Regions from separate parts of the Homo sapiens genome. Here region 1 is linked to region 2. Evidence: fine-mapped expression QTL. A gene starts in region 2. The other region holds a variant in brackets. All regions are shown on one strand. Distances are from middle to middle.

Evidence for each region. PIP is the estimated chance that this variant, and not a neighbour inherited with it, causes the effect.
Region 1: its variant is the best candidate, but not a certain one, in a credible set for the expression of CD180 in lymphoblastoid cells (TwinsUK, PIP 0.55).

What each region holds. Positions count from the first base shown.
Region 1 is chr5:67,169,988-67,172,904 of GRCh38, forward strand. No RefSeq gene overlaps it. Among named protein-coding and RNA genes, the nearest start is that of CD180, 25 kb to the right of the region's middle. The variant A/G (reference allele first, on the strand shown) is at 1,631.
Region 2 is chr5:67,195,377-67,198,270 of GRCh38, forward strand. It overlaps CD180 (CD180 molecule), which reads right to left and starts at 1,423. Exons shown (of 3, transcript NM_005582.3): 1 at 1,176-1,423. The coding sequence starts at 1,265. RefSeq lists an enhancer at 247-396.

The DNA.
Region 1 (2,917 bases), 25 kb before region 2:
AAGGCTGCAGTGAACAAGCTATAATTGTGCCATTGCATTCCAGCCTGGGCAACAGAGTGAGACCCTATCTCCAAAAAAAAGAAAAAAAAAAAAGATTAAGTCCTCTTTTAACTTCTTCCTATTTTTTTCTACCAACCTTTTTCCTTGCCTGCAGAACTTACCAACTTCTACACTCACACTCACCATCTTCCCACACTCAGGGGGTCTTGATTCTCCTTTCTCTGTGACACCACCACCACCTCCTCTCATTCTCTCACGAACTTGCTCCATCAATTACCATAGTCTGCCTCAGCATTCTCTTTTTCCTCCCCAACTGTCTCTTTCCTTTCAGAAAACCCTTTCTTTACCTGGCCTTTTCCCTCTGTCCCTTCTCAGGTGACATCCTACAAGAGGAGTCTGCACTTAGTATTTTTGGGTCTTCACCCCTTTGAAACCTGGCTCTGTCACCCATGCCATCAACATCGCTCTGGTAGAGGTCACCAGTGACACAGCTGACTCTAAAGCCCTCTTGTCAAGACATCACTTCAGTAGACCATCTTGAGAACCGGTCTGTCCCTGACAGCCCTCTCTCCTAGTTGTCTTCAACCTGTTCTTTTTCTCTCTTTAGAGAATTTCTTCCTTGTCCTCTTGTCCCTTTAAATACTGGTGTTTCCTGGGTTCGTCCTTGGTCCCTGAGCATTTCAACTTGGCTCAGGCACCTCACACTCAAAATGTCCAAAAATATGCTTATTTTGGTGCCCCTTCTTTCAAAGCTCACTGTATTCCCCATCTTTTCTCCGAGTCAGATCCTAGATTTCTGCCTAAACTCTTCTTTCTTGCCTTACATCTTAAAAAAAAAAAAAAAAAAAAAAAAGCTTCACTGATTTCACAATATACTCTTCTGTGCAATCCATGTCCCGTCACTATTGTGCTACTGGCAGCCTTAGTTTGGTCTCTATCATAGTCTCTCTCCAGATGACCTCAACAGCCTCCTAACTGGTTTTCTTGCCTTCGCTCTTACCCCTTCTAGTCTGTTCTTCACAATGTCCCTAGAGTGATGTTGCTCAAGTGTAAGCACACCATGTTACTACCCTGCTTTAAACCTTTAAGTAGCACCCATATTCTTCGGGTAAAGGCCAGTTCCTTAAATGTATCCTTACCCTAGATAACTCCAGCTCAGCATGTGTGCTGGACTCAGACATCTGGAGGAAGCCTTTTGGAAAGGCCTGGACCGACCTGTGGACTGTCTTTGCTTCACTGTGTATCTGCCTCATGGCACTCACTGCGTTATTTTGGAGTTACCTTTCTACATGTGTATCTTCTTTGCTAGACTTCAAGCTCCCTGGTTCTCTGTCTTGTTTTTTACTTCTAGGACAAAGCACATCGGAGACATCAATAAGTATTTGCTGATATGGTTAGGCTTTGTGTCTCCACCCAAATTTCCTCTTAAATTGTAACCCCCATAATTCCCACGTGTCAAGGGAGAGACGAGGTGGAGTAACTGAATCATGGGGGCAGTTTCCCTCATGCTGTTCTCATGAGAACTGATGGTTTTATAAGGGGCTCTTCCCCACCCTTCGCTCAGCACTTCTTTCTGCCGCTGTGTGAAGAAGGTGGCTTGCTTCCCCTTTGCCTTCTGCCATGATTGTCA[A/G]TTTCCTGAGGCCTCCCCAGCCATGCTGAACTACGAGTCAATTAAACCTCTTTCCTTTATACATTACCCAGTCTTGAGCAGTTCTTTATAGCAGTGTGAGAACGGACTAATACATTTGCTGGACCGAATTGAACAAGAAAGGAAGTATTAGTAGTCGCTACTGTTTGTAGCACATTTACTAGAAGCCAAGTAACACACTAAATACTTTATTTCCATCTTCTTATTTAATCTCCGTGCCATTTGAACTATACGTTGCTTCATTTTATAAATTAGGAAGCCAAAACTTGGAAAGAGGTTAAGTGACTAACCCTCGTGATTGGCAGGACTGAGGCTTGAACTCAAGCGATCTGACTGGACAGCCCATACATTTAACCTCTACCATTAGACGAGACCTTCTTCCTCCCACACACTATTCTACTACAATATAAATTGCAAGATGAAATGGGACAGAATCATGACAGTGTTTTTCACTGCCTGCGTGATGTAGTTTTCCCTGCTTAGAGGAACCCACTCTGCTAAGATTCACAGTTTTTAAAAGTAAGTATGGAAATGGTCATTTTAATGGGACTTGGTATCATGCTATGCAGAAAAGTCGGTCTTCACCATAAAAGAAAAAACCCACAAAGGATATTAAGTACACACATCACAGAGCCAATAATGGCCATAGCAAGAGCTATTAAGTGAACAACCAGTTTAGAGCGAATACATAAAAGAAACTTTAAATGAAAAGCAAGAGATTGAAGTTTTAAAGGTATTTACCTTGAGCTCGACCAGGTAAAACTAATGAGGTCATTAAAGGGCAAACAATTAGACATGCTCTTGTGGGTCTGTCCAGTCTGGGGCACAATTTCTTGTACTGTATTTTCAGCATCCACGTAGTGTTATCTTATTTGGGATTTTAAAAAATTGAAATGTAGCTAAATATGTGTTTGGGTGTATAATATTTCCCTAATAAACTGAGGGCTACCTCTTTTAAGCCCAAGGCATTTTTTTAAAGAGACATGGGTTGCCCATGCTGGCCTCAAACCCCTGGGCTCAAGGGATCCTCTCTGCTCAGCCTCTCGAGTACCTGGGACTACAAGGGTGCCCAGCTCTTCAAGGCATTATTTTTCCTTCTTTATAACAATGTAAGCACAATGTGATGCAGCCTACAAAAATTACAAGTTCTCGTAAATTTGTTTCAGTTCATTGTAGATTCTGTATATTAGCCCTTTGTCAGATGAGTAGGTTGCGAAAATTTTCTCCCATTTTGTAGGTTGCCTGTTCACTGACGGTAGTTTCTTTTGC
Region 2 (2,894 bases):
CAGCTAATATTTGTATTTTTAGTACAGATGGGGTTTTGCCATGTTGCCCAGACTGGTCTCGAACTCCCAGTCTCAAGGCATACACCCACCTTGGCCTCCCAAAGTGCTGGGATTATAGGCGTGAGCCACCACGCCTGGCCCAGTCTGTGGCATTTGTTATGACAGCCCAAGCAAAGCAACACACACCTTCCCAGCCTTCATTTCTCATTGGCATGATGCCTCCTCTTGGCCTGCTGCTGATTCCATCCTAATGCCAGACCAACAAGGCTCTGCTCACCCAGCTCTGAGCCTTACCCCAGTGCTGGCTTTGCTCTGCTCTTCCTGATCCTCTGATCTCCTTCTAGTCCTGCCCCAGGGCAACTCCACATCTGGCTATTCCTGGCTCTTACTCTTCTTTTTACCTCAACCCAGACCAGCAGCTCACCAAGCCACCAAGACTCATGGTTCCTCCTGTATGCAGCCCTTGTCTGACAGGCCACGTGGTATTGATCACTTGTGGGGTCAGAGAAAGTGGGAGGAAGTTTGAAGCATTTTAGAGGATGGCAAGAGACGGAGGCCCTTCTCCTTTTTCTCTCATTATCCCCTCCAAGAACTTCCCACAGGTTGATAAATATTGCTATGGTCCAAAACAGAAGGTGCAATTTGGCTCTATTCTCAGATTTTCCTCCTATGGGTTAGTAAAACAGATGGAAGGCTGTCCAAGTCCAAGAGAGAGCCAGACTCATTCAGAGTGATCTTTTCAATGCTCGAAAACCTGGCACAGCGCTGTCTTTACTAATTCTCACCCTGAGAGGAGACCAAAGGACTCATTGGGATAGAGGCCATGTGAGAGTGGGGATGTTAAACCAACAGCTCCCCTAGGTTGAGGCAGGTTTAGGGGTCTGCTTTGTGCACACAGACCCTATTAATATCTTATGACCCACTTGGGATTATTTGGGTGGAATTGTTTGAAGAGGAGAAAAATTCTCTTTGCTTCCTATTAAGATGCCACCAGATGATCCCCTGGCAGAGTTCTTTGGCTCCTTTCTCACAATAATGAAAAAATTATATATACACCTTATTTCCTTTTTAAAGACACTAGATATTGGGATGCCAAGGCTCAGATTGGACTGCGTGCTAAATCTCAAAATTTTCAGACAGTTTAATCTGCATAAAGACAAACAGTTTGGACTCACCTCAATGCACATCTGATCCCAGGAGGTGATGACTTTACAGCCGGCAGAAAACAGCACCACCCAAAAGAAGCAGCTGACGTCAAACGCCATCACAGGCTAGGATTGCTTGGTGGGTTTACCTAATGCTTGGAGCTGAGAAATGGAATCAAACTGTGAAGGCCCTGGCAATTTGGCAGCCAGAGAGGTACTCAGAAGGGTGATCTTGGAACAAGAAATGCTGTTGACTGCTCAGCATTCTGTGGCTCTGTGCTGGAAAAAAAAAAAAAAAAAAAAAAGGAAGTCCCTTTTGCATACCACCCATCTTTGCCAAAAATAACTGAGGACCCAACCCCAGAATGGCCCGTTGCATTTCCTGGCACTGAACATGAATCAGTTGTGCAGTCCTTTTGGGCTGATCACACAGACTCTCATTGTGATGGTTCCAATTGACTTTATGCCAACTTCAAGCATTTGGCCAACTCCAACAGCTTCTGGTCCTTTTCCCCGAGAGAGGCTGTGGAAGCTCTACTCACCAAGGAGGCCACTTTCTTAGTTGTCCTAGGTGAGTGAATAGAAGAGGTGTCAGAGAACATGGAAGGGCAGAGCACTCTGCAGGGGCAGACTGAAGAACTGAGCCCTTCAGTGGCACCTGCTGAGCTGGGAACTGGAGCAGGAGGGAGCAGGCTTGAGAGTGTATCTGCTCCTTGAGCCTCAGCTGCTGCCTTGGCCACCTTGTCCATCCCCACCTCTGGTCTTCGTATAGGGGGAAGATTACTTCATCTCTTGACCTGGCGGTTCAGGCTTGTTAAAGCAGTTGGGGTGGACTCTCTTGTTCCCTCCTAACCTGGCCTGGGGAAGTAGGGGACACTGCCATAGATAGAGCAGCCTGGCTAAAGGAGAGTAGAGTTAGGGATGCCAGCCTTGGCTCTATTTCTTCTTAGAAATAGCTTTGAAGCAGGATTACAATTACCCTTATTATGGAGCAAGATGTGGCAATGATTAAAGAAAGCCAAAGTTCAAACATTCCTCAATAGGCTGCATTTAGCTACCTGTTCTGTCTGTTCTTCAACCCTCTGGCATACAGGATATATTTGGTGTTACTGTTCTCCCACTCCATTTCCAAGAGCCCAGTTCTTAGTATCAGAGTTCACAATGACTTAACTACTGCTACTACTACTACTACCACCACCACCACCACCACCACCTCTACAGTATTACTATGATGAATCAAATGACTATAGTATCTGCCATTTATTGAGTCCTTACTATGTGTCAGACACTGGGTCAGGTTTAATGCAGTTTTTTGCTGCATTTTCCTATCCTCGAATATTTCCATATATTCTATAAGAGAGATATTATTATTTCCCTCATTTTATAGATGTAGAAACTGATGCTTAAGAGAAATTAAATGATCTCTCCAAGCCACACAATTAGAGAGTGGTAGATTAGGGCTTCAGATCCAGAAAATCTCACTGCAGAGACTATGCTGCTACTCTTCACAGTTTAAGAAAGGACTTTGCCTCCTGAAGGAGCTGAAGAGTAGATGGGGCGAAGAATGTTGTTCATCTGGAGATTTCAGAAAAGATGCTAAAAAGCAGAGGGGATTGGAGGAAATATGTACTTGGCAGTCTGCTAGGCCTGCTACACATATTTGGGCTTTTCCTGGTCACCCTTAAAATGCCATCTTCATCAACAAAATCATCTCTGAAGATGCTATCAGCAAGACACAGTCTAAGCAAA